7 linked regions of the Homo sapiens genome follow. The protein of the gene in region 4 purifies or fractionates together with the protein of the main gene of each other region. This does not show direct contact. Each region holds a gene or a part of one and is shown on either strand. Other genes may lie near its edges.

Evidence for each region.
Region 1: the proteins of ABCC6 (region 4) and AKR1A1 purify together in Homo sapiens (affinity purification with mass spectrometry, with the first as the bait; one large-scale study listed by BioGRID). This does not show direct contact.
Region 2: the proteins of ABCC6 (region 4) and EIF2S1 purify together in Homo sapiens (affinity purification with mass spectrometry, with the first as the bait; one large-scale study listed by BioGRID). This does not show direct contact.
Region 3: the proteins of ABCC6 (region 4) and SUCLG1 purify together in Homo sapiens (affinity purification with mass spectrometry, with the first as the bait; one large-scale study listed by BioGRID). This does not show direct contact.
Region 5: the proteins of ABCC6 (region 4) and GCN1 purify together in Homo sapiens (affinity purification with mass spectrometry, with the first as the bait; one large-scale study listed by BioGRID). This does not show direct contact.
Region 6: the proteins of ABCC6 (region 4) and ADNP purify together in Homo sapiens (affinity purification with mass spectrometry, with the first as the bait; one large-scale study listed by BioGRID). This does not show direct contact.
Region 7: the proteins of ABCC6 (region 4) and ROCK2 purify together in Homo sapiens (affinity purification with mass spectrometry, with the first as the bait; one large-scale study listed by BioGRID). This does not show direct contact.

Annotation. Positions count from the first base shown.
Region 1 is NC_000001.11:45,563,841-45,568,044, reverse strand, and holds part of AKR1A1 (aldo-keto reductase family 1 member A1), read right to left. Parts: intron 1,477-4,204; coding exon 1,357-1,476; intron 1,177-1,356; coding exon 1,025-1,176; intron 64-1,024; coding exon 1-63. UniProt on the Homo sapiens protein: Catalyzes the NADPH-dependent reduction of a wide variety of carbonyl-containing compounds to their corresponding alcohols.
Region 2 is NC_000014.9:67,376,836-67,381,039, reverse strand, and holds part of EIF2S1 (eukaryotic translation initiation factor 2 subunit 1), read right to left. Parts: intron 382-4,204; coding exon 275-381; intron 1-274. UniProt on the Homo sapiens protein: Member of the eIF2 complex that functions in the early steps of protein synthesis by forming a ternary complex with GTP and initiator tRNA. This complex binds to a 40S ribosomal subunit, followed by mRNA binding to form a 43S pre-initiation complex (43S PIC).
Region 3 is NC_000002.12:84,434,943-84,439,146, forward strand, and holds part of SUCLG1 (succinate--CoA ligase [ADP/GDP-forming] subunit alpha, mitochondrial precursor), read right to left. Parts: intron 1-4,204. UniProt on the Homo sapiens protein: Succinyl-CoA synthetase functions in the citric acid cycle (TCA), coupling the hydrolysis of succinyl-CoA to the synthesis of either ATP or GTP and thus represents the only step of substrate-level phosphorylation in the TCA.
Region 4 is NC_000016.10:16,157,076-16,161,279, forward strand, and holds part of ABCC6 (ATP-binding cassette sub-family C member 6), read right to left. Parts: exon of another isoform or gene 4,197-4,204; intron 2,509-4,196; coding exon 2,407-2,508; intron 735-2,406; coding exon 588-734; intron 1-587.
Region 5 is NC_000012.12:120,156,492-120,160,695, forward strand, and holds part of GCN1 (stalled ribosome sensor GCN1), read right to left. Parts: intron 3,765-4,204; coding exon 3,651-3,764; intron 3,533-3,650; coding exon 3,334-3,532; intron 2,125-3,333; coding exon 1,969-2,124; intron 1,540-1,968; coding exon 1,358-1,539; intron 502-1,357; coding exon 421-501; intron 114-420; coding exon 1-113. UniProt on the Homo sapiens protein: Ribosome collision sensor that plays a key role in the RNF14-RNF25 translation quality control pathway, a pathway that takes place when a ribosome has stalled during translation, and which promotes ubiquitination and degradation of translation factors on stalled ribosomes.
Region 6 is NC_000020.11:50,890,528-50,893,741, forward strand, and holds part of ADNP (activity-dependent neuroprotector homeobox protein), read right to left. Parts: coding exon 878-3,214; 3' UTR 1-877.
Region 7 is NC_000002.12:11,337,820-11,342,023, reverse strand, and holds part of ROCK2 (rho-associated protein kinase 2), read left to right. Parts: intron 1-4,204. UniProt on the Homo sapiens protein: Protein kinase which is a key regulator of actin cytoskeleton and cell polarity.

The sequences.
Region 1 (4,204 bases), on a different chromosome or scaffold from region 4:
TAGTGGGTGGAGTCGTAGCATATAGTCCCATCAGCATTCTTGGGGAAGGGGTTGTCTCCCCGCCTGAGTGAGAGACAGCCCCACCAAGTGTGGACACAAATGCCAGGCTTCTACCCTACCTGCCCATCCAGCCACTCTATGTCCCAAACTCCAATCCCAGAGAGGACAAAGGGCCAAGAATTTTTAAAAAGCCATGCTTTTTCTTTTTTTTTTTTTTTGAGATGGAGTCTCGCTTTACCGCCCAGGCTGGAGTGCAGTGGCACTATCTCAGCTCACTGCAAGCTCCACCTCCTGGGTTCACGCCATTCTCCTGCCTCAGCCTCCCCAGTAGCTGGGACTACAGGCGCTCACCACCACGCGCAGCTAATTTTTTGTATTTTTAGTAGAGACGGGGTTTCACCGTGTTAGCCAGGATGATCTCGATCTCCTGACCTCGTGATCCGCCCGCCTTAGCCTCCCAAAGTGCTGGGATTACAGGCGTGAGCCACCGCGCCTGGCCAAAAAAAGCCATGCTTTTTCATCCTTCCAGATCGTAACCCAGGTGTTAAGTTTACATGGAATGCCTATGCCCCCTCCTCTTCCTAGACGTAGATATCTCCTCTCCCCTAGGAAGTCTTCCTTAACTCATCCTCAGGGAGTTATCCACCCTTCTTCCAGCACAGGGCACGGCACTAATGGTGAGCTCTTCTCACATCTTCTGCTGAGACTTACTTATTACTGTAACCCCAGGTGCTCAACAGAAAAGTCAGCACCTTTTCTAAATGAATAAAGGGAGCAGGAGGGTTACAGGTGCATACCCTGGGGTACACACCATGTGAGACTGCCTTCCTTTTTCCAGAGTTAAACTCCTGTAGCTACAGCTAAGCTGCTGTAGCAGAAGAGGCTAAGATCCCATGTCAAGCTCCTCAGCTTGGCATGCAAATGAGTGTTCCTATCCTGCTCTGCTGCTGTGACTTACAATAAGTTACTAACACCATCCTGCTCAACCCCCTGATTCCCCAGATGAGGCTCTGGCAAGGCTCACTCAAAGGCATAAGGCCAGTGCATCAGGTACAGGTCCAGATACTCCAGCTGGAGGTCAGCCAGAGTCTTCCGGAGGGCAGGCTCCACATCCTCGGGGTGGTGCTTGGTGTTCCACAGCTTGGATGTCACAAACAGCTCCTCCCGAGGCACCGCCTAGTGCAGGGGGCAGGGCCCACAGTGAGAAGAGCCATGAGCACGTGGTCTCACCCACCCTCAACTCTGGGAGAGGAACTGGAAGGAAGCTGATGCCAGATTCCCTCCAGCTGGGCCCCAGCCCTAGCTTCAGCTTCTAAGTTCTCTTATCCCACCTCTATTTACAACCCCAGTCCTTACCTTGCCTGGTCCCACGTCCTCCTTCAGGGCCTCCCCAATCTCAGGCTCATTGCCGTAGATAGCAGCACAATCAATGTGGCGGTAGCCTACGCTAAGGGCATACTTAACAGCTGCTTTTACCTGCCAGGTGAGAGAAGCAGAGGTTTCAGCTATGTTGGTTTCAGCCTTCTACTGTCACCACCCCAAGGTCAATGCTGGGGGAAGGGGGCTCAGAAATATAACAGGCACATCTATGCAGTGGAGGTGAAAAGATGGAAGATGAACTGGGCGCGGTGGCTCACGCCTGTAATCCCAGCACTTTGGGAGGCTGAGGTGGGCAGATCCCCTGAGGTCAGGAGTTCGAGACCAGCCTGGCCAGCTGGAGGTCAGCCTGGCCAACATGGTGAAACCCCATCTCTGCTAAAAATACAAAATTAGCCAGGTGTGGTGGCAGGTGCCTGTAATCCCAGCTACTCAGGAGGCTGAGGCAGGAGAATCACTTGAACCCAGGAGGCAGAGGTTGCAGTGAGCTGAGATTGTGCCACTGCACTTCAGCCTCGGCAACAAGAGCGAAACTCCATCTCAAAACAAAGAAAGAAAAAAAAAAAGATGGAAGATGGTTTCAGTCTAAGGGACCAGAAGCCTCTTCAGAGGCTCCAAACCCTTTGCTCTGCTCCCACCCCAACCAGTCTCTAAGATGCCTTCCTACCCAAGCCATCTCAGCAAGGTCTAGCAAAAACTAACAATATTTTCCCGGCATCTACCATAAAGAGGGCTTCAGTAAATATTTTTTCAGGCTGAGCACAGTGGCTCACGCCTGTAATCCTAGGACTCTGGGAGGCTGACATGGGAGCATTGCTTGAAGGCAGAAGTTCAAGACCAGCCTAGTCAACATAGTGAGACCCCCACCTCTTTAAAAAAAAAAAAAAAATTAAGGCCAGGCGTGGTGGCTCACGCCTATAATCCCAGCACTTTGGGAAGAAGAGGCAGGTGAATCACCTGAGGTCAGGGGTTTGAGACCAGCCTGGCCAACATGGTGAAATTCTTTTCTCTACTAAAAATACAAAAATTAGCTGTGCATGGTGGCATATGCCTGTAGTCCCAGCTACTCAGGAGGCTGAGATAGGAGAATCGCTTGAACCCAGGCGGGGGAGGCTGCAGTGAGCTGAGATCATGCCACTGCACTTCATCCTGGGCGAGACAGAGTGAGACTCCGTCTCAAAAAAACACAAAAAAAATAACAACAAAAAATTGAAAACAAATTTTTTTTTTTAAATAAAAGCCAGGCGCGGTGGCTCACACCTGTAATCCCAGCACTTTGGGAGGCCGAGGTGGGTGGATCACCTGAGGTCGGGAGTTTGAGACCAGCCTAACCAACACGGAGAAACCCCGTCTCTACTAAAAATACAAAATTAGCTGGGCGTGGTGGTGCATGCCTATAATCCCGGGTACTTGGGAGGCTGAGGCAGGAGAATCGCTTGAACCTGGGAGGTGGAGGTTACAGTGAGCCAAGATCATGCCATTGCACTCCAGCCTGGGCAACAAGAGTGAAACTCCTTCTCAAAAAAAAAAAAAAAAAAAAAAAAATGGCTGGGTGTGGTGGCTCACGCCTGTAGTCCCAGCACTTTGGGAGGCTGAGGTGGGTGGATCATGAGGTCAGGAGATCGAGACCATCCTGGCTAACACGGTGAAACACCGTCTCTACTAAAAATACAAAAAATTAGCTGGGCGTGGTAGGGGGTGCCTGTAGTCCCAGCTACTCAGGAGGCTGAGGCAGGAGAATGGTGTGAACCTAGGAGGCGGAGCTTGCAGTGAGGCGAGATTGCGCCACTGCACTCCAGCCTGGGCGACAGAGCAAGACTCCATCTCAAAAATAAAATTAAATAAATAAATAAATAAATAAAAATTTAAAAATTTTCAAAAATAAATAATTTTTTTTTTCAATCAGAAGACAGATGGATAAATAGAGAAAAGAAGTATAGACCATGGAAACAAGTTCCAGGTTCTAAGGAGCTGGTTAGAGAAACACAGGAAAAAATTCCTAGGCCAAGGACATACAGGGAGTTGTGTAGACAGACTCTGGGAACTCTGGGAGCACAGGCCAGCAAAAGAGGTTAGAAGGGGGAAAAGATTAAGGAAGGCAGATAAGTAGGCTGAAAGCTGGAGGCAGATAAGTGGGCTAAAAGCTGGACCCAGAACTCCCTAATGAGAGAGAAGAAAACAGGCATCAGATAGAAGGATGGGTCAGTTAATTTTGCTAAAATCCAGACTGGAAACACGGCATCAGCAGCAGAAACAAGGGTACCCGGCCCTAGACACAAAGCACCCAAAGCTCTTGTTGTGGGTGCCTGACATAGTATTCAAGATCCCCACCCGGGTGCCGACGTACTTCCCCTAACATCTGACCCCTGCTGTTCCATGCCCCGCCTTGGCCTTGTCTGTGGCCCCCAACCCTCTGCCTTGACCTAGCTCCTGGACTTCTCCGAGGCTGTGAGAAGTGCCTGCCTAAAGCACAGGGACCCTGGCTCCAGGCTCCTTGGCAGCTATAGGAAAGAAAGCAAAAGGGAAAAGAGACACAGGTCATCCAAGCACACCACAAACATCAGTCTAAATCCCAGATAGAAGAATCTGTTCTCTCTGCTGGGGCTTCTCTGAAACTTAATCCCCAAACTTCTCTTCACTCTGACTCAAGATTTCCAAGGAAGAAGGAAGAAGCCCTGGGGAAATGCCCCATTCCAGGCAGGAGCCAAATCTCATAGCTACGTCCACCCTGAGAGAGCAGGTCCATATTCCCAGACTCCCCTCAGCTGGGATGGTCTACACCAGGGGTCAGTCAATTATCAACTTTAACAGTTCTTGAGTTAAGAAC
Region 2 (4,204 bases), on a different chromosome or scaffold from region 4:
GTATGCACTAAAACAAAACAATCAAACCCCTCTTTTTAAAAAAAGGGCTACCTTTAGGTTAGCTGAACTCACAAGACTGTTTCTACTTGTGTCAATATATAAATTTTATGATTCAGAAGCCAAAATAATTTCTTAAGCTTTTGTTATAAAAAACAACCATTTAGAAAAATTTATAGATGTTGATGTAGCAACATATTCTTTGGTAAGTCTCATTATTTAATAGCTTTTTTGATGCATGCAAAATACTGTAAAAATCATTTAAAAAATCATTTACCTGCTCGAATTTTGACAGCCTGTGGGGTCAAGCGCCTATTAATATTATTAATGAGTACTTCCCGTTCATCTTCATTCAAATCTAAACTATCCAAAATAGATGGGTCTCTGGTCAAAAACATAAATAAATAACAAAAGGTCAAGGTTATATTACTGATAAATGTGAAACCAAACACTATGGAACAATGCATATAATAGTTAAGCATATAATAGTTAATGCATATAATAGTTAAGGCTTTAGTGTCACAATTAGAATTCAAATCTTAGCTTTGCACTTACACCCCAACTGATTATTAGTGAAATCAAAATTTTAGTGATCTGACTAAAACAAGCAATTTAATGCCTAACACATCTGATATTCTACTATAATTGATTACTTCCATGCAATTAGCTGTCCCTGCCTCAAGGAGTTTATAATCTATCTTGAATAGAAAAAAAAAACATGGAAAAACTTTTAAATGTAACAGTACATCTGTGGGCATCAGGACAGAAAGGTATTACTTCCAGTTAATGAGGTCAGGAAGGGCTTCATGCAAAAAGTAGCATTTCATCTGACCCTCCTAAGTGCCACAGGACAGGGACCAGGGTCTTATTAACTGGCATGTTTGTTGAATGAGTGAGCAAATGAAAATATGAAATAAAGACTAAAAGAGGAGTAGCACTGTAAAAAGTAAAGGTAGAACTATTGTAAAAAAGTTATGATACATAAGGCTGGGCACCAGTGACTCATGCCTGTAATCCCAGCACTTTGGGAGGCTGAGGCAGGGGGATCACTGGAGACCAGGAGTTCATAGACCAGTCTAGGCAACATAGCAAGACCTCCATCTCTATTAAAAAGAAAAAAAGACACTTTGGGAGGCCGAGGCGGGCGGATCACGAGGTCAGGAGATCGAGACCATCCCGGCTAAAACGGTGAAACCTCGTCTCTACTAAAAATACAAAAAATTAGCCGGGCGTAGTGGCGGGCGCCTGTAGTCCCAGCTATTTGGGAGGCTGAGGCAGGAGAATGGTGTGAACCCGGGAGGCGGAGCTTGCAGTGAGCCGAGATCCCGCCACTGCACTCCAGCCTGGGCGACAGAGCGAGACTCCGTCTCAAAAAAAAAAAAAAAAAAGAAAAAGAAAAAAAGAAAGTTATGTCATGTAAAAAAGGAATAGCATGAGCAAGCATCAGGCTTAATAAGCAAGGGGTCTTATTGGGAATAAAAGGCAAGAGAATTTGGGTGGAGGGAACTTTTACTCAGCTAACATAAAGTAACGAGAAGACAACCAACATAAATGTATAAGAAACAAGATGATAAACAGAAAATGGGCAAATGAGGTGAACAGATGTTTCACAGAAGAAATACAAATGGTTAAGAAACATGAAAAACTGTTGACCTCTCCAACAATCAGGAGTATGCAAATCAAAAGATACTACTGTGAATTCATTAGACTAGAAAAAGGAGAAAAAATCAGATATATACCAAATTGTGGCAAGGATTTGGTGAAACCAAGTCAGTTTAAAGATATATAATCAATCCTATGACCCAACAATTCCACTCCTAGGCATATATATTAGAAACTCTCAAACAACTACATATAGAGACACATACACTATTCATCACAGCCCTGTTTGACAAATGGCACAGAAGGGAAAATTACCTAAACAACTCTTAATAGAGGAACAGATAAAGCATATTCTCACAATGAAATACTATATAGAGATTAATATGGATCAAGTATACATCTATCATTGTGGGGGAATCCTGCTTAATAATAGGCTTATATGTAAAAATGCAAGCTACAAAAAGATACAATAGGTTACATTTTAAATAAAAAATGATAATAGACACATATGTAGTAAAACAATAAAAACAAATGATATTGATACATAATTTCAGAATAGTGGTTATCACTGATAAGTGAGGAAAATAGGTCTGGAAAGGTAAAACATTGTTTCCAACTATGTCAGAAATTTTATGTAATTAAAAGAAAAATGCAAAGAACTAGCATTAGTTAAATCTGGACAGTCCCTACATGAATGAAGCAAGAAAAGAGTGCTAAGGAAAAGGGAATAACACACGCCAAGGTTTAGTGGTAACAAGGGGTTGCTGGAACTAGAAGTTAAAGAGGTAACTAAAGAAGCCAGATGATGACAGTTGAGACAAGTTAAGAAATGTACTGAGGACTGCAGGACAGAAATATAAAGTTGTGTTTAATGGCTAATAGTGCAAACTCTGGATGGAGCCAGAATGCACGCGTTTGAATACTGCCTGGCTCTATGATTTGTTAGCTGTGTGACCTTGAACAAATTATTTAATCTCAGCTTCAGTTTCTTCAACTGTAAGAAAAGGATAATAATAGCATTTATACCACAGGTTGTTGTTAGAATTATATAAATGTTAGTTATCATTATTACTATTCCCACCTTTTCTACCACGTGATATACCAAAAAAAAAAAAAAAAAAAAAAAGTCACATGAGAATAAACTTGAAGGGATTTGGAACCCCAGATGAGTTGGCTTTCTGGGGGACTCTTAATGGTCTTGGGTCCTACTCATTCTCTTTTTTCCCCCCTCTAACTCTTAACATTTAGGAAGGAGTGGGAGGTAAAGAGACAGCAAGTATAGAGAACTGAAAGAGTCTGGCTTTTTTTTTTTTTTTAAGAGACAAGGTCTCACTCTGTCATCCAGACTAGAGTGCAGTGGTGCAATCACAAATCACAGCTCACAGAAACCTCAAACCACTGGACTCAAGTGATCCTCCTGCCTCAGCCTCCCAAGTTGCTGGGACTACTACAGGCAAATGCTACCACACCTGGCTACTTTTAATTTTTTTTTTTTTTAGAGATGGCAGTCTTGCTATGCTGCCCAGGATGGTCTCCAACTCCTGGCCTCAAGCAATCCTCCCACCTCAGCCTTACATAGTGCTGGGATTACAGGCATGAGCTACCACACATAGCCAAGTGTGGCTGTTAAAAGCAGAGGACGCAGTGTTTGCTCCAAGAGAAAGTAAAGGAAAAGTTGAGAAGTGGGTTTTATAGTATAAATGGAAGAAACTAGAGATATTTTTATGCTGATGGAGTAAAAGCAATAAAGGGAAAGGTGACCCAAGAGAAAAAGTAACTAATAGAGATCTCTGAGCAGCAGCTGGGCATAGGTGGCAAGACTAGTTTGAGAGCAATTAGGACACAAATTCCAGTGACAGCAGCATAGGAAGAAATGACAGGTGGGACAGAGATATGTAAGTTTGTTGAGACAGTGGAAAAGTAGTTCTTGTGCAATGGTTTCTATTTTCTTTATAAAATAAAATAGGTAGTGAGCATACCAGCCAAGAGGCAGGGAGCAGGGATAGAGTGGTTTTCTGAGGAAGAACGTGGAAAAGCTCTAAAATAGCCACTACTGAAGAACTGACCAGGAGCAGAGAGAATGTGGAACAGCTGAGGCTGGAGACCATGAATATGCAGTGGACCAACCTGCAAGACTGATTTTTCCTAGTAGCACCCAGCAGTCTACAAGTACAGAGAAGGCAGGAACATTGATCCAAGGCTGGATGGATGGAAGGAAAAACAAGGCAAAAGCTCACAATAATGGCAACAAAGTCGTTAAAATGATGTATCATGGTGTGCCTATGTTGGATAAGAGAGAAAAGGCAGGAAATGGCGAAAAGACAGGGAGAAAAAAGGTTTGGAATCAGATCCTAACATACAGAATTAAGATGACAAATAATAGGACCAACTGGGAGCTAGATGAATAGGAGGCAGGGGCAAAAGAACAGAAAGTGTGAATTAAAGATTTTAGTGGCAGAGCAAATCCCGGTGATAGTAAGGCCCAGGCTAAGGCTACATGGAAGACTGGCTAAAGTGGTGTGGGCTGAAAGTCAAAGGAGAGTCAAAAGAGGTAGAGAAAACAAGAGGTTATAGTTTTTGGTGAGACATGCTCTTTAGTCCCATA
Region 3 (4,204 bases), on a different chromosome or scaffold from region 4:
TCATTGCTAAGCAGACCCTACAGAACACTGTCAGATTGCTCTTTTAGATGCATTTCACTAGACAGTGACAACTAAATCCTCGACGATGCCTCACTTCACGTGGAACTCTGCTCTAACTCGCCAGCCCAGCAGAGTCCCAGCTTCCCTCTCCAGACTTGTTTCTTACTATTTCCCTACCTAGTGAAACTGGGTTATTCCTCATTGATATTTCATGCTCTCCTATCTTTTCATATTTGTTCTGCTTAAGATGGAGTGTTTCACCTCCACCATCTGACAAAACTTCTAATCATCCTTCAAGGTCCACATTAAATGCTACTTTCTCTTTGAGGTCTTTCCTGATCACCCCCAAAGAGAAGTGAGATATAATTTCCTTCTCTAAATCTCCTCAATGCTTTCATATTTCCTACTGCCCTCATTACTAAGAAATAAGCAGAAGTTATATCTTCCCTACCACTGTGAGAGTATTTCTGGGGTAGAAACAACGTCATTCATTGAATGGTTCACTATTAGCCCTAATGTTACCATAAGACACGTAAGAATGTTAGGCAGATGGCCAGAAACAAGCAAGCAGGGGAGCCCTGGGAAAAGTCCTGGAGGCGCTGCCTGCTGACCGTCTGCAAGAAGGCAATGACTACACAGTAGGCTTTTGTTCATTATAATAGTAAAAACCACATCCCTGTGTGGAGATTTTAAATGCTAATGAGACATGCGAGGTGTATACTAGCATGTACAACTACAGAGCATGTAGCATGTACACACAAGGAGACTGCTTAAAACATGGTTGCAACTGATACCCTCTCATGCCCCCCTCATGAATAATCATGCAATATTCTCATAAAGAGGGTCCCCCAGCATTAGCTGCTGCTAGCTCATCCTCTCTTTCCAGCAGCCTGTTCTGAATCATCTCTCAGGGTGTGCTGTCTCTTTAAATAAACACTGCCACTACTGTTTTCCAGGAGGTCAGCCAGCCAGTCAGCCGTTCCTCTCTTTGAATGCATTTTATCTTCCTTCAATAAACTCTGCTACTTAACCCTTGTTGTGCATCTCTTGGTTGAATTTTTTCTTCTAAGAAAACAAGAACAGCAGTTCTTGCAGTACAATTCCAGTACCTTCCGGTAACAAGAGGGCTCATTTCTTGTCAACTCTTCTTGCTCCTGAGGTCAAGGCAGGTACTGATGGCAAATACTGAGGACAGAGGGAGGATCAAGAAGAGAACACTGAATGGCCTACAGCAACCTACAGGTAATTATTTTTTTCTAGTGTTACAGCAAACACTACTAAGTTTGAGGTCACTTTTAGGTAATGCTAACTTTCAGCACTGTTAAGAATTATATTAAAATCATAATAATGCTTTTTAAAAAACAAAAATTTTATCAAGAGCAGAAATCCTGAAAAGCTGATCTAAAATACTGATTCTACCTAGCTTTAACAGGCAGATATTTATATTTGCCTTACAGAAAGACTGCCTTGGGATGGAACGAACACAAACTTTTTATTCAGAAGGCAAGACAGTGCCTCCGATCAACAGCTTAACATCTCTAAGGAGACTACCTGCTGGCCTGAGCCCTGCCCTCGAATCTGCCACATAACATGGCCTCCTACTGCTGACACAGTAAAATGGAATGATCCATCTGTAAAAGGTCCATAAGGAAAAAAGGGAAGGATAAATTTCAAGTTTTAATTTTTATCTAATAATCTTGGCTTGGCAAAATAAATTCATAGTCAGGCTTGATCAACCAGCCTGAAATTTGAATATCCTGACCACACACTGATTCTCCAATTAAGAACAATGTTCTCCTACCACCTGGTTCAGTAAAAGACCACCAATGGTGCTTGAGATTCTATAGCAGCTACCTTCTTCACTAGACTATAATTTTCAATGGGTCAATAAATAAGAGTCTTCACAACCCCTATATTCCCAGCTTAAAGCACAGTTCCAGGCACAGAAGGTAAACATATATGTTTACTAAGTGAGTTGAAACTGAAAACTCATCAATGGAGTAAGACCACCCTCTTAAGTGAAATTTAATTTTAATAGTTTTAAGATTATTCACTTACTGAACCCTAATGCATAACAAATGACAACCACCACAACTTCCACCCCACGTATGTCTCATTTATCACTTTTCCCCTATTCTCAGTGCCTTTGTCCCATCCACATCCTCTGTCTTCAACACGGTCCCTCCCCTCTATGGGACATTTCATCATTGAGAAGATTAGGTGGATAATGCCTACCTACTTATGTAATGGTGTATTCCTATCAAAATCCCAAGAAGAGTTTTTATAGATACAAACAAGATACTTTTAAATAAATATGAAAAAGTAAACTGGATATCCAGCAAAGTATTAGTATCTAGAACATACAAAGAACTGTAAAAAATAAACCATAAAAATGTAAACAATCCAATTAGAACATGGGCAAAACCCAAGGAGGGGCATTTCACTGAAAAAGATAACAAATGGCAAATAAATTTATTTTAAAAATCTATAAAAAGATAATCAATATCATTAGCCATTAGGCGAATACAAATTAAAACTACAGTGAGCTATCACTAAACACTTACCAGAATGGCTAAAATAAAAACACAGTGACACCACCAAATGCTGGCAAGGCTGTAGAGAAACTGGATCATACATTGCTGGTAGACATGGAAAATGGCACAGCTACACTGGATAGCAATTTAGCAGTTTCTTAAACTGGATAGCAATTCAGCAGTTTCTTAAAAAACTAACATGCAAGTATCATACAACCCAGCAACCATGCTCCTGGACATTTATTCCAAAAAAATGAAGACAATGTTCACACAAAAACCAGTATACAAATGTTTATAGCAGCTGTAATTGTAATAGGCCAAACTGAAAACAACCCAGATGTCTCTCAACAGGTGAATGGTTAAACAAACTGAAGTACATTCATACCATGAATACTCCTCAGTAATAAAAAGAAACAAACCATTGATACACAACAAGCTGGATGAATCTCTAGAGACTTATTCTGACTATAAATAGGCAATCCCAGAAGGCTACATTCTGTATGATTCCACTTATATAACATTCTTGACATGACAAAATTATACAATTGGAGAGTAGATTACTGGTTGTCAGGAACTGAGAAGGGGGTGGAAGCAGGAGGCACGTGACTAGAAAAGGGTAACATGAAGGATACTTGTGGTTATAGAAAAGTTCTCTATATTGACTGTATCAATGTCAATATCCTGTTTATGAAATTATACTACAGTTTTGCAAGATGTTAACCATTGGGCTAACTGGATAAAGGGTGATCTGTCTGTATTATTTCTTACAACTACACATGAATTTATAGTTATCTCAATATAGGCAGTTTAAAATTTTAAAAGAGGCCAGAAGAGTCAAGTATGTGACATGTGGTTGAGAGTAACAAACTGTCTATCATAAGAGAAATAAATAACATGGTGCAGTTAAATATCATCAATTTGGAATCCAATCACTTTCTTCGATAACACTCAATTAGCAGATATGCAATTATATTAGCTGTTATTAACAAAAACTGGAAATCCATTACACTATTATACTGCTATTACATTACATTATATTCCATTCAGAAATATCCAAGGGACTGAAAAGTCCTTCCTTTCCCTTAACTCTCAACCTAAGGATCTGAAGTCAAGGAGGCTATTGAGACTATTAGCAATGGTACCAAAATAGGAAGAGTTGGCACAAATAACCATCTTTCTCTCCTCACCCCCTCAAAAATCTTGTAGTGTTGAAAGTGAAGCCAGCTGGACTTCCTGGGTTGAGTGGGGACTTGGAGAAATTTTCTGTCTTACAAGAGGATTATAAAATGCACCAATCAGCACTCTGTAGCTAGGATTGTAAAACGCACCAATCAGCGCTCTGTAGCTAGCTAGAAGTTTGTAAAATGCACTAACCAGTGCTCTATAAAAACCCACCAATCAGCGCTCTGTAGCTAGAGGTTTGTAAAATGGACCAATCAGCAGGACACGGGCAGGGGACAAATAAGGGAATAAAAGCTGGCCACTCCAGTCAGCAGCTGCAACCCACTCAGGTCCTGTTCCATGCCATGGAAGGTTTGCTCTTTCACTCTTCACAATAAATCTTGCTGCTGCTCACTCTTCAGGTCCATGCCACCTTTAAGAGCTGTAACACTCACTGCGAAGGTCCGCGGCTTCATTGAAGTCAGCGAGACCAAGAACCCACTGGAAGG
Region 4 (4,204 bases):
AGTGAAGGGGCCTGATGAGGCATCTGTAAAATGGGATAGTACTAGCACCTCACTTAGGGGTTGTTGTGAGAGTGAAAACGCAAATAATAAAAGCATTAGTAAACATTTCTGGAGCACTTTCTATGAGCTAAGCATGTTCTATGTATTAACTCAAACTTCACAACAACTCAGAGATCAGTATTACCAGTCCCAATTTACAGATGGGAAAACTGAGACTGAGCTATGAAGTGCTTTTCCCAATGTCTCCCAGCTGAAAGCAAATATCCCATTTGTGCAAACTGGAAAATGTACCTGGAGCATTTAACACACTGCCCAGCACATATTAGGTGCTGGGTTAATGTTAAAGGAAGAAGGAAGTCACGGAGTTGCTTCCTCATCTGGGGACACCAAGGTGGATGAGGAAGTCACCAGATGGAAGCAGGTTTGGGGAAGGTGAGGAGTTCATTTTAGGGGGTAATGGGTCTGAAAGCTAGGGGACCTGAGGTGGGGACACTGTGGAGGTGGCTGGTGCCCAGGGTTTAGGGCCTTGTCCCTGGAGTCCTTTGGCCTAAACTCCATGAAGAAGACATTGTGAGAGAACCACTCACCTTCTCTCCTGCGTGGATCTTGAAGGACACGCCCTGCACAGCCAGCGGGAGCTCAGGTCGGTATCTTAGCCCAAAGTCCCGGAACTCGATCTGCCCGCCCTGAGGCCAGGGGGGCTGAGCTGCACATGTGGGCAGCCTCCAGGGAGCCTGGAGCAGGAGGGGAAACTGAGTCAGAGGAGCCTTCCTCTAAGACTTCACACAAGATGGCCCACCTCTATCAGCTTCAGTTTTCTCTTCCGCAAAATGGACGTATTTATTGCTGTTTTACAGGGTTGTTATGGGAATTCAACAAGAGAGGGCATGGACTATGTCAATGCTAAAAACAGATGGTGGTGGCTACTTTTAGTCTATTTTATTGTTATTATTAGCCACTGTTTATTATAAAATAATCTCTTTTTCTATAGTGGGAGCAGACATTTCTCTTTGTCTTTGTGAAAGGACATGACTGTGCAGTGGGAAGACCAATACTGCCTTTGCTGTTCCCGTGACCTTGAACAGATCATTCTACCCCCTTGAGTCTTGGTTTTCCAATCTGGGAAATAGGGCTAATAAGAGCAGCAGACATGTATTGAGTGTTTGCAATGGACCAGGCACTCTATTAAATCATTTCTTTGCAGGATCTCATTTGATCCTCCCAGTAAACTCAACGCTGTTATGTTACTGTTACATTAGTGCTATGCTGCTGTTCTTATCCTTTCTTCCACCCAATCCCATCCATCCATTCATCCATCCATCTCTTATCCTTTATCCACCCCATCCCACCCATCCATCCATCCATGCATCCATCCATCCATCTCCAATCCCATCCCTCCATCTCTCATTCTTCCATCCCATTCCATCCATTCATCTGTCCATCTCTCACCATTTCTTCTACCCTATTCATCAACTAATTAATTCTTCCTTGTTCTGTTACTGTAATGTTACTGTTATATTGCTAACACATTATATCATGTTGCTGTTTTGTTACCGTTGCGTTGCTATGTTGCTGTTCTGTCCTTATAATGCTACTGTTATGTTGCTGGAATTTTGCCATCATGTTACTATAATGTTGCTGTTTTCTTACTGTTACATTGCCATGTTGCTATTCCGTTACTATAATTTCAGTTATTTTGCTGGAATGTTGCCATCATGTTACTATAATGTTGCTGTTTTGTTACTGTTACATTGTTATGTTGCTACTCTGTTACTCTGTTACAGTCGTGTTGCTGGGATGTTGCTGTCATGTTATGATGTTGCTGTTGTGTTACTATTGCATTGCTATGTTGCTGTTTTGTTTCTATCATGTTACTAAAATGTTGCTATTACGTTACTATTACATTGCTATGTTGTGGTTGTATTGCTGGAATGTTGCCATCATGTTACTATAATGTCTCTATTATGTTACTATTACACTGCTATGTTGCTATTCTGGTACTGCAATATTGTGGTTATGTTGCTGTTACATTACTGTTACATTGCTGTTGCATTACTCTCATGTTCTGGAATATTGCCATTGTGTTGCTGTTGCCATTATGTTACTATCATGTTGCAGCTATGTTGCTGTTGCAATGCTGTTCCTTGTGGTTCCCTGCACTCCCATGGGTGACCTGCTTTCCTCAAGCTCAGAAGCAAAGGAACCAAGATTTGGCCTGGCTCCAAACCTTATGCTCCTAACCACTGCTGCCACCCTGTCTGTGACTCTGACCTATAGTGGTGGGGGTTGAGTGAGGGGAGAAGAGGGTATAAACTCCAAAGCCTGTAGCAGATGTCAACAGGGACCCATTGCCCCCCCCCACAATATGTCCTTGCTGGGACCCCCTCCCCACCTCCCGCCCATCACCTCCTTGGGCGTCCAGGCATAGTCCTGCATCCGCTCCACTGACACGATGCTGTTCTCTAGGTCTGTCCAGTTGCGAACAACCCACTGCAGTGTCTGGGTCACCTGGTGCAAGAAAGCCTCTCTGGCTGGGTTTGGCAAGGCCACTTGAGGGCTTGCAACAGCCCCCCTGGTTTCCCAACCTTTTCTGGGAGGCCAGACCCAGGGGAGTAAAGAGGGGAGGCAGGAATGGGACAGTCTGAGGACCTGGGCCCAGGGGATTGGGATTTGGATACAACCAACAGGTCCCTCTCTTCCTTCAGTAGAACCAGAGCATGCAGAGCAAAAAGAAGCCCTCAGACATCAGCTTGTACAAACTGGCTTGATGCAGGTGAGTAGACAGGATCAGAGAGGGTGTGTGGCCCTCCCAAGGACACACAGCAGGACCCAGGCCCACTGATTCCATTCTGACGGCTTTCTCGCAGCGACTGGGTGGCCACCAATTTCCCATGACACTTAGAACCACTCCAAGCTCCTCCCTATGAGCCATTAGCAGCTCTAGCCCTGCCATCCCATCCCCAACCTTGTCTCCCAGCACCCCTGCCTTCACCCACCCTCTCCAGCCACACCCGTCTTCTTGCTGTTCCTCTAACACACCAGGGATGAACCTTCAACTCCCAGGCCTTTTCTTCCTGCTGTTAACCTCACTTCCTCCTAAGTCACCTCCTCAGAGAGGCCTTTCTGGATGCAGTAGGAAAGTTCCCTCACTGCCACCCAACATGCTCCAGCCTCTTACTTCATCCTTAAGCTTAGCAGCCTTGACTGTAAAATGAGGATAATAACAGTGCTTCTCTGATGGGGTTGTGGGCAGTATTAAGTGAGTTAATATTTATAAAATTCTTGTGCACAGTGGCTCATGCCTATAATCCCAGCTTTTTGGAAGTCTAAGCAGGAAGATTGTTTGAACCCAGGAATTGAAGGCTGCAGTGAGCTGTGATCACACCACTGCACTCCAGTCTGGGCAAAAGAGTGAGACCTTGTCTCAAAACAAAACAGCTGGGCATGGTGGCTCACACCTATAATCTCAGCATTTTGGGAGGCTGGGGCAGGCAGACCACTTGAACCTAGAGTTTGAGACCAGGTTGGGCAACATGGTGAAACTGTTTCTACCAAAAAAAAAAAAAAAAAAAAAAAAAAAATTAGCCAGGCATGGTGGTGCATGCTTGTAGTCCCAGCTAATTGGGAAAGTGAGGTGGGAGAATCCCTTGAGCCTGGAGATGGAGGCTGAAGTGAGCCAAGATCATGCCACTGCACTCAAGCCTAGGCAACAAAATGAGATCCTGTCTCAAACAGCAACAACAACAAACCAAAACGAACAAAAACATATAAAGCTCTTAGAATAATGCCTCCTCCATAACAAATGCTTATGAGTGTATATATATATTTTTTTCATAGATGTCATGAACTGACATTACATACTGTTAATAGTTAACAAAAATTAGCCAGGCATAGTGGCTCACGCCTGTAATTCCAGCAACTTGGGAGGCTGAGGCATAAGAATCGCTTGAACCCAGGAGGCAGAGTTCTCAGTGAGCCGAGATTGCACCACTGCACTCCAGCCTGAGTAAAAGAGAGAGACTCTGTCTTCAAAACAAAACAAAAGTTAACAATGCACTAGAAATGTCCTCCACAGGATATGCTTTGTCTCAACTAGTCTTTATAACATCAGAAGTAGTGGGATTTCTGGCCTGTCTTTCCAAGGAGCACACTGACACTCCACAAGGAAAGACTCTTGCCCAAGGTTGCAAGTTCACCTTAGCTG
Region 5 (4,204 bases), on a different chromosome or scaffold from region 4:
GGGGACTGCAAGGCACAGAGCAGCACGTCCACCTCCTCCTGCTCTGCAAAGGCACAGCCATCATCACCACTGCTGCTGGCACACAGGGTGGTCAGGGTGTCTGAAGCCAGAACCTAAGGAGAACATCAATCCACTGGTTCAGTCAGCAACTCATTTACTACTAGGGGGCCAGAGAGGGATATGCACTGAGAACACCCACCCCTACAGCACTGCAAGGGCTAAGACCCCAGCTCCAGTGGCAGGACCCAAGCAAAACCCCTCACTAGCTAACAACAGTCAGGCTGGCTCTCTAAAGCAGTCTTTCTACCAAAGTCCAAAAGTAAGGGCTGAAAGGAAACTAGGACTCCACCCTTTACACTGGGACTTGAGGTCTGGGTCACGAACTGAGTCACAGCAACAGCCAACTGAAAACCACATCACCTGTAAGCGAGGCGAGCCCGTCCCGATCACCCAAGTCAGAAGACGCAGCATGGCCACGCGAGGCAGCAACTCCGGGCCATTCTAGGAGAGAACGGCAGGTAAGTCGAGATGAGGCTGTGGGGAGGTCTGTAACCCAGGCGGCCAACGGCAGGGCATCCTCTCACCCACGGGGGAACATTCTGGATCATACAACCGGCCCCACCACAGAAACCTCATTAAGTTTACAACTAGGTCCACAGGTGCTAACCCCAGTCAACCATGATCCTCAGGAACTAAAAACTAAATTCTGAAACTTGCTTGAAATTCACACTATGAAATCCAGAAAGACCGTAAATATATGAAGAGACACTCAACTTTAAATGAAATGCAAAATAAAATGAGATTATCATTCTTTCACTCATCACTGACGATATTAATACTATCTGAGGTTGCATTAAGGCTTTGAGAAAAGAAAACTCTTGGTGAGAGTATAGCTCAGAATATGCCATATAATCTAGTAATTCCATGTCCAATGAACCTGTCCTAAAGAAATGCTCACACTGGTTAAGTAAGGGGCATATACATACAAGAGGGCACATCACAGTGCTGTTCAAAACAGGAAAAAGTTAGAAACAACCTTAAGAACTCATCAACAGGTAAAGAGTTAAGTAAAACATGGTACATCCATAGCACAGAATCTCATGCAGCCAACAAAGTCAATCAGGTGAACTGACATGTACTGGCATGGCAGGAGAGCCAGAGTCTACAATCACATGAAAGAAGCAGTCTGACCCGTTTTTGCCTTAAAAAACCCACAACACTGTGTGAGGCTGCTGTTGGTATAAACATACACTCTCTATTTCCCCACCAGGAACTGTTCATGAGACAAAACGTGTCCACAGGCCCTGCCTCCCTGATCCCCTTTAAACCAAGAGGAGAGCAGAGCTTCCCTGCCAACCTCGTCCACCCGCCCGGGTGGGGTGTTGGGGGAGGCCCTCAGCTGGGCTTGGACAGTGAGGATCTGAAGAATCTGGGCCATCCACTCCTCCTCCTCCTCACTGTGGTGGGGCATCTCCGTCAGCACCATCTTCAGAAACGGGAAGACTAAGGAGAAGGCTGGCGCGGACAAGGGCGCAGCACCTGTGAGAGCGAGAAGCAGATAAGATTCTGCAGGCAGGGCAGGGACCCGGGCCACTGCTGCCTATTTCTATCCTCAGGGAAAGTAGGGAACGGATGGACCAGAGGCCCGTTCTGACACCTGGAAGCACATGGCACGAGGACAGAGACAGCAGCTGGTAGTCCAGTTCTAAAACCAATTCTGCTTCTACTGCCAAACACTGCCCAGTTCCAGGATGTGAGAGTTAAAACAGAGATGGGGACACCAGTGACAAAAAGTAAACCCTCAACTGGGCTCACTGCAATTCACAGACTACGAAGGTTCAATTCAGAAATCCTCCATATGGTCCAATCCCCCAGGCTCAGGAGGCCCTGGGTGACGCTGTGCCTTGAGCAGCATTCCTGGCACCAGCTCACACCGCCTGGTGCCCCTGATCCCGTCCCAGCCCTTACCTGGCTCCCCCTTGCCCACCCTGCTGGTGATGGTGTGGGTGTGCAGCAGCATCACCGCCCTCTTCACAGCCACCGACAGCTCTTCCTGGCACCAGGACTTATCCAGGACACACTCTGGCTTCAGCAGGCGCAGGGTCACGTGGCTCACCAAAGTGCCTGTGTTGAAGAGGAGAGACCCAGCAGGAGATGACACACAGAGATGTGGAATCCAGCCCAGGCTAAAACAGGGGACCCAGTGCCTCATCCTTCTGACTTAAAAAAATATTTCTGCGGCTGGGCGCGGTGGCTGATGCCTGTAATCCCAGCACTTTGGGAGGCCGAGGCGGGCGGATCATGAGGTCAGGAGATTGAGACCATCCTGGCTAACACGGTGAAACCCCATCTCTACTAAAAATACAAAAAATTAGCTGGGCGTGGTGACGGGCGCCTGTAGTCCCAGCTACTCAGGAGGCTCAAGAAGGAGAATGGCATGAACCCGGGAAGCGGAGCTGGCAGTGAGCCAAGATGGCGCCACTGCACTCCAGCCTGGGTGACAGAGTAAGACTCCGTCTCAAAAAAAAAAAAAAAAATCTTTCTGCTTCGCCAAAATGTCCCCAGCCTAATTTCTCACTTGATCTTTGTGACAGCCTCAGAGGGCAGGTAGGCAGAGAGTTGCCCTTTGGACATTTAAGAAATGAGTACGCTGACAGGAGACAAGGGCCACCAAAGAGTCATTCAGCCAAGAGTACAGCTCTATCTGTGCAGCATCTCCACCTCTACGCAACAAGCCCAGACAGCCAGGTGACACTTCTGGCAGGTTTCATATGCACCAGCTGACTTTTCCACTCAGAACAGTTCCCAGATTCTAGCCTCACCCGTGGGAACATCACCGTTAGGCCAGGATAGAAGTCTGCTGAAGGCCACTAAACAACCCACAGAAGCAAGGCCACCAGAACTGCCAGCCACCCTACCTGGTGTTTGTTTCTCCAGAGCTAAGAGGAAGCTAAAGGTCTCAAGGGCCTCTGCTCACTGCTGTCATGTGGCTGTTCAGGAGATCTGGGCTGGGCTGAGCCACCAAACCATCCTCACTGCCACTGAACTTCTGACTTCTTAGTTTTAAAACTGGTATACAAAGATCGAACACTGACTAGCATCTAAAACCTACTCCTCAGAGGGAGGGCACAGATGTGAAGTGGGAGAGAAGAGGAGGCACTACGTCTCTCCTAAGCATATCCAGCTTGAGTCTCCAAGGCTGCTTCCACAAGAAAACAAAACTCAGCAGCTGAGGTCACCACCCACCTCCCCACAAGCACTCAGGGGCACACCCTGTCCAAGCACTCAGGGGCACCCCTGGGCCATCCCTGCAGCCAGCAAACAAGGACTAACCCAAAGCCTTGAGCCTAGAGGGCATGACACAGGCAGCCAAGGACAAGAAGGGGTTCTTGATCCTGGGAGCAGCCAGGGGAGACTTCAGCAAGGGCAGAAAAGAGTCGACCAAAACAGGGATGTACTGGGTCAGGCCGGACGGGTTCTTGGCCAGGATGATGTCCAGCAGTCCAAGCGCCGCCTCCAGCTCCCCATCCAGCTGCAAGCAGAGTTGTCCAGAAGGCAGGTCAGCAGGGCCCTGCTTGTGACAGCAAGCAGCAGGACCAAGCTGCCCAGCACTCTTCCGGCTTGAGCATGTGGCGGAGGTGGCCACTCACCTCCTGCAGCCGCCTCCGGACCTGCGCCTCCCTGTCTAGCTGGGCCTGCAGCATCTCCTTCTGCTTGCTGGTCAGCTGCACCTCCTCTTTGATGCCTTTCTTCTTCTTTATCTCCTAAAGAGGATGGGCAAACCAACCAATCCCATCTCCAGGGAACAGACCTCCCTCCCCAACAGAGGAAGGTGAGCTTGCTTCCACACAAACAGCACCATACCAGCTCTAAGTGTGAGTTGGGCCCCTGAACCCACCATGTGCACCCCCAACCTCCCACAAAGTCCACAGCCACCTGGTTTCTATAGAATGGAGACAGCAATAGAGAAGTAGTTGTTTTACTGGATTCTCTACTGACAAAGGCTAAGAGGGCTTTTTATGTTAGAGAAATAAAGGTTCCTCAATGTACTCAAAAGGGTATTCTGACAGCCAAATGGATTCAGAATCAAAACTTTAGCCTCCTCCTCTCCAACCCCTTCCTACATAAGCTCTCCCACAGGATAAGCTGAAGCTTAGAAAAGGCCTGCTATAGTGGCCTGAGACAACAAGCCACAGAACTCACT
Region 6 (3,214 bases), on a different chromosome or scaffold from region 4:
GCTGCTTCAACACAACACACTTTTATACAGATCTAAAAGGTGTCAAAATTAGTAGCTGCAAAGTCAATTCTTGCATGTGATTTTAGCTTAAAAGATTTCAGAAAACAGATCTGAAATACCAGTTTTTGTTTTTGACAGCTGTAATGTCAAGGATATTCAGAACAAGAAAAATCCTATAATACAAGAGAGTCCAGATATATATCTTACGTGGCTGGCCTCTGTTGCAAGATTGTACAAGGTTATGTGCAAAAACTAAGTCTGTCCAAAAAGTCCATACTAGCGCAGTTTTGAGCTTTTGCTAGGTAAACTAGATAGAGCGTTTATTACACAGCAAGGGCAACACTAAAAAAAGAAATCTATGATGGGCACACAGTAACAGGATCATGAGCATCACTTGAATAGGTCTAAAAGACTGTACAAATATACATTTCAACTATTCAGAATGAATACATGAAAAAAAATCGCTTTTCCCAAAGTCTACTATACACATTAGACTGGTAGCTTGTATGTTGGCCCTACACTACCATGTGAATTAGTTTAACACTTCTCAAAGACATCTGACCAATCATTTCACAGAGGGAAAGAAATGTTGAAAAGGCAGATAAAATAAACCTCTGCTTTTCCTCGTGTGTATTCATGAGTCACCAGCTTATTGGTTTTTCACATTTAGTTACCGTGTCTGTCAGAGAAGGTTCTGAAGCAAGAACAGCCTGTCCTGTCATAGACTTAGAAATAACCACTGGAACTGCAGCGGCCACATGCCCCACAGTCCAACCAGTACTCACAAGGCAGTACCAGTGAGAAGACAGCTTTGCAGTCACACTGGATATCAGAGTTCCAGGCTGCAGCATGTCACCAACGCCAGGGAACCTGGCACTTAGGCCTGTTGGCTGCTCAGTTTAACTCCGGCTAAGCTGCCATGCATGGGCTCAGCTACTCCATCAGTCATGTTGTCAAACTGTTCCCCATCCTCACTGTCAATTGTGCTATTCTGCCACTCAATCTGGGGGTTAGATAAGCGCTCATCATTCTCAGATGCATTCTTCCACTGTGACTGGTCCTTAGACCAAAACCCTTCAACTTTTCCATAGGAACTATTCTTCCATTTCAACTGCTCTCTGTCACCTTGCATGGTAGCCTTTTTTTTGGCAGCTGGCTTACTGCTCCTTGCATCTTCGCTTTGGGAAGACTCGTCAGACCAGGTTCCTGGTTTCATTTCGCAGGTATTGTCCTCAAAGTCTGACACTTGTTGGGATCCAGGCCCACTCTCAGATGGAGAAGCACCGTCTTTCCACTCAACAACATCGTCTTGGTCAACCTCACTATCAGATGCATTGTGCATTAGTTTGGTTGGTTCCTCAGTCAAATGAATAGTTTCGTATTTTGAACCATCCTCTTTTTGGTCTAGCTTCTCCTCAGATTCTGAAGCATCCTCAGGAATTACCTTCAGTACATGTTCCTCTGGGTTATCGTTAGAGATTTTAGGTTCAACTTCAAAAACAGGGTCAAAAGGGCTACCACTTTCATTGGATTCTTCTTCCAAATTTTCAAAACTGTCTGAGGAACTGTCATCTTCCTTCCCAAGGTTGAGCTTTTTGTCAGCAGTCTTACTAGCATTGACTCTGGAATCCTTCTCATCATGATTTTCAAATAGCCACTCAGCATCAAAATCCATCTCATGCTTGACTTTATTTAATTCTTTCATGTTAAACCCCAGCAACACGCCAGGCTTGTACTTTTCACAATCACGGACACACTTCTTCCTTTTGTTACTAAAATGGGAAGCGATGTCACTCTTCCATAACCATAAACTGGCTGCTAGCTTCTCAATTTCTCTCCTGGTGGGATAGGGCTGTTTGTTGAAATACTTTGTTAGAAAGCTTTTCCTGGCTTCATAGGAATCATCTTCATGACCCTTGGGGTCTAAAGCTAAAACAACAGGCTCTTCAGGCTTCTCTTCAAAGAAGCTGGGTGAATCACTATCATCATCTAACTTTCGTTTTTTCAGTAAGGGAAATTCCATTTGCTCGTAAGTGCGCTTCACAGGTGCCAGACTTGGAGACTGATTAAGCCGAGAGGGTGCATTTGTCTTATCCTGGCCATTTTGGGTCTTTCCAACGCCCCTGCAGTGAACTAGATGCAGAGTGATAGTTGAGGCGGTCATGTTGCTGGTATACACACCAAGGCAATGGATACATTTGTAGGTGAGCTTTTTCTCAACTGGATGAACCGTCTGAATAACTTGGTGCCTCTCTCGTAAGTGATGTGCAAGTGCATCAGATATGGGTCCTTTTAGGATTGAAAAGCAAAGAGGACAAAGGGTTTTCCCAACATCTTTTTTATAGGGCACTGCAGCTTGAGGTGAACTTTTTACAGGGATATCTGCCTTTTCCTGAACCTTTGGCTGTGGCTTTGGAGGAACTGGAGGATTATTTTGGGCATGGTAAGCAACAGATTCAGCTGGGGCATCCCTCAGATTGTATGTAGTTACCAGGAGATGGATGTTAGTGTGACTACCCTGCTGCAATGTCAAATCAAAACTCAAAGTAGAATCTGTTTTAGGTCCCATCTCTTCATCAATGTGAACCATCCGCATGTGTGCGGCCATCTTTTCCACATCATTGAAAGTTGAACGGCAATATGGACAAGACAGACCATGAATTAACATATGGTTGAGCAGAGTATCTGTGGGTAAATAGCGATTACAGTAGAGGCATTTGCTAGTAAAATTGTGTATTTTCATAATGTAGTTGGCTACTGCTGGGACTTTCTCAGCTTTATGTTCTTTTTCGAAGTGCACACTATAGACATTTTCAGGAAAAAGCTCATTACAGATTGTACATATTTTCCACTTTTGAGTTGAGGAAGTGTTACCTGGGGGAGGGCCTGTGGCAGCTGCAGCAGGTTTGGAACTGGACTGACCTAACACTCTGGATGCCTGTGACTGAGAGAGGGAAGGAGACTTTAACTGGCCCGATGAGAGAGAAGAGGCATTAGCAGACTGCAGGGAGTATCTTGCTGGTGCCTGGGACCTCTGCTCTGACCCAAGCCCATAAGACCTTCCGTTTCCACTTGGAAGTAACTGCTTTACAGACTGAGATTGTTGAGGAATGGAAACTGGTGCGTTGCCACCTAGACCCAGTCTCATTGACTGACCAACACTGTAACCCTGGCCTACAGATTTGACTCCATAGTTGTTCTGCTGCAGATGAAC
Region 7 (4,204 bases), on a different chromosome or scaffold from region 4:
GGATTTTTTATTGTGGTAGCGTATACAGAATTTACCATTTTTAACCATTTTTAAGTGTACAGGTTAGTGGCAGGCATTAAATACATTCACATTGTTGTGCAGCCATCACCACTATCCGTCTCTGGAATCTTTTCATTTTTCCAAACTGAAACTGTAAATTAATGTTTAAAAGAATGTTATAAAAATTATATTTCCTGAAATACTGACGAAATAATGGCTGGTATCACTTTAAAGATCTGAAACCTTAGCATTTAGGTTGCATTTCACTATTGGTCATTGTTTTACTGCCTATGACATTTATTTTTTGGTTTTGCCATGGGAAATACATATTTTGTCTTTAACAGAAAATTTAAAGGAATATAATTTAAAGCAAACACAGCTGCGACACTACATTCAGGAGCTCAGAAAGTACCATTAAAAATAGTATATACCTAAGATGACAAAAGAAGATGAAGTACACCAGAAATGATTGTATGATGCTTTCAGTGGGCTAGGCCTAGAAGGTAAAACTCTGTAGGAAACAAAGTTTTATGAGATAACGTGTAAAGTGCTTAGCCTAGTGCTTGGTACATCACAGTGCTCATTAAATTTAGTTCACTTCTCCTGTGCACACTTAGCATGTTATTAGTTAACTGCTTTAAATTTTCTTTTCAAAGGAAAATGGTTTTATTTGCAACTATTTCTTGCTACATAATTTTGAGTGAGTAGCATTATCATTTGAATTTGTCATCAGAAAAGTGCTAGCAATCATTAGGCATAGGTAGAGCTGGATTCCAAGACTAAATCAGTGTAAAGATGACATCTTGTTTCTCTGCAAAGGCTCATGGCTTTATGTGGGTCCTTAAATTAATCTGAGAAGAGTATATCTCTTTTATGGTTGCAGATTGTGAGCCGCTTAGTATTACTTAGAGTTTTGCTTCTCTACTGCCTCTTTTTTTTTTTGGAGGCGAGTCTTCAGTAATATGCTTTTGTAGTGTTTGAAACCTTTGGGTAAATACCTATGCTTTGTTGTCAAGACCAGCTTCTCATACTGCTTACCTATTATGGTAAAAAGAACTGTGTTTCAGGCTTTGCTGAAGAGATATTTTTCTAAAGGTCTGTGCTTTTTGAGTGTTGATTTATTTTACTCTTTCAAAGAGTAAACAGTCACAATAACCTGTAGGACTCACGCTTGGGTAAACTCTTACTTAAGACTTGTGTGGATGGGCAAAGGTGATTAAAACTTTGTTTACAATTTTCAGTGGCATAAAACATAAAATAATTTGATTGATTTCATTATACTTGTAAACTATCTGACAATATTATCTCAGTGCTTAGACTCTTTCAGCATGCTGCTGGTTATTTGCCTAGTTAAAATAAAATTGTATGTGTATTTTTCCCATCATGTAATAAGTAAGAACATTATAAAGATACAATAAAAATGAAATAGAATAAAAATTAAAAATCATTTTATACATTTTTTTCTTTATGAAGAGTTTGGCATTTATAGTGTAAAATTTGTGACTAGTTTACTTTAAAACTTTCATGTTGATAGGAGATATTTAAAGAAAATGAGTTAGCTAGGGAGGTTTTAAAAAAAAGGTGATGTGTGGAACTTACTGTTGATGTGAAGCAAGTGCAGGTCCGCAATCCCTTATCCACAATTTTGATATATAAAAAACCCAGTTTTTGGTAAAATGTATTTGATGATAACATCTGACCTAATCTCACATTAGAATACTTGTGGTCTAGTCATTCCTCTTGATGTAAATAATAATGCCTTTTGCTGGAGGAATATGAATGTATTTGATTTCAGGGTGTTGCCCAGATTTTCAAGAGCATTTTTGGGAGTACACAGTATATGTACTGTGTACCTTTCTAAAATCCAAGAAATTCTGAGTTCGGAAACATTTTGGTCCCAGGGTAAGGCCAATGTAGACTAAGTAAGGAAATACGGACTTACATACACTTCAGTAGCTGTAAATAAATAGTGGATAATTATCTTGAAACCTAACTTTTTTGTTTTTTATTTCCCAAGTCTTGATCAGATAGCCCTCTTTTTCCCATTTTGAATTCTAAAAATATAGTATGCAAATATAAGTTACGAAGCGTAAAAACATATTCATGAAATCACCACACAAGTTAATAAGTGGAACACTAGCCTGTAGAAGTTACCTGTGTGCCGTCGCCGCTGCTGGATTCAGTCTTCCTGCATCCTCTCTCATCTGCTACCCTGAACATTTTATTGTTCCTTTGCTTCATTTCATAGATTACTACATTTGTGTGTATCTCTAAACAATATTGTTTAGTTTTACTTGTTTTTTTAACTTTATAAAATGTCAGCATTTTTATGTATTCTTTTATGACTTGCTTTATTTACTGAAAATGGTGTTTCTAAGATTCACTAACATTGTGGGTTATTCATATTCTCTGCTATGATAATCAGTATAGCTCCGATCTACTTAATGGATATTTACAGTTTTCTTTCTTTCTTTTTTTTTTGTTTTTTTTTTTCTGTTATGGAAAGTGTTGCTAGGAGCATTTCTGGAGCTCACGTGAATAATTCCTGTAGATTAGGGTATATATCTGGGAGTGGAATTGCTGGATTTTAAGATATACTATGTTCAGTCAACTTAATATAATGGATAGAGTTGAAAATTTTCCCCATGATGTTATTATAGAAAATTTCGAAGTATAGTAAGGGTGAAAAAATCGACAGTGAACATCCATATATTTACCGCATAATTAATATTTTGCTGTATTTGCTGTATTTTCTTTATCTGTCCATTCCTTTATCCATCTATCAATACATCTTTTATTTTTGGTTCACTTAAAGTAAATTGGAGATATTAGTATACTTCACCTTCAAACACTTCAGTATGTATTTAATTAAGAAGAGTTCAATATTTGTTTAGATTTTTTAAAGATTAAATTTGCATGCAATGAAATGCACAGATCTGAAGTGTACCGCTGGTGAGTTTTGACAAATGCACACACCTATTTAATGCAAATTCTTGTAAAAATACAGACCATTATTACCAACTCAGAAATCTCCTTCACACCTTTTCAGCTAATTTCACACACCATTTTCTTCTATTAGAGGCAGTCATTCTTCTGATTTTTTTTTTTTTTTGCAGTAAAGATTACTTTGACTTCTTCTATACTTCATAAAAATGGAATCATATAGTATATACTTTTCTGTGTCTGGCTTCTTTAATTTAGCATTGTTTCTGAGAGTTATCTGTGTTATTGTGTGTGTCAGCAGTTTATTCCTTTTTCTCATTGTTGAATTGTCTTCTGTTATATGTATAAACTGCAGTTTGCTTGGATATCTCGTGTTGATGCATACCTGGACTAGTTTTCAGTTTTTTGTTTTCAGAATGTACACTGGTCCCTTGGTGTTCTCCGGGGATTGGTTCCAGGATACTTGCCTTATAGTCTGCCTACGTACCAAAATCCGACGACGCACAGTCCTTTTTATAAAATGGCATTAGTATTTGCATGTAATCTGTGCATATCCTCCATATACTTTAAGTCATCTCTAGATTACTTACAATGCCTAATACGATACTGTATTGTTTTAGTTTGTATTTTTTAATTTTTATTTTTTTTCCAAATTATTTTTGATCCATGGTTGGATTCATGGATACAGAGTGCTGAGTGTATTATATATTTTGGCTTGATTTTTTTAAAATATGGAGACAAGATCTTGCTCTCTTGCTCAGGCTGGGATGCAGTGGTGTAGTCATAGCGCACTATAACCTTCAACTCCTGGTCTCAATGATCCTTCCAACTTAGCCCCTCTAGTAGGGACTACAGGCCTGTGCCACTGTAATTGGCTAATTTTTATTTTATTTTATTTTTGCAGAAATGGGGTCTTGCTGTGTTGTCCAGGCTGGTCTCAAACTCCTGGCCTCAAGTGATCCTCCAGCCTCAGCCCCTGAAAACGTTGGATTAGAGGCCTGAGCCACTGCACCCAGCCTACTTTGGCTCTTAATACAGTTGTTATGAAAGTTTTCATTTCTTTTGGGTAAATTAAATACCTTGTAGTGGAATTGCTAACTCATAGGGCAGATATGTGTTTACTTTTTAAGAAACTGATGGCCAGGCATGGTGGCTCATGCCTGTAATCTCAGCACTTTGGGAGGCTGAGGTGGGTGGATCATTTGAGGTCAGGAGTTCGAGACCAGCCTGATCAACATGGTGAAACCCCATCTCTACTAAA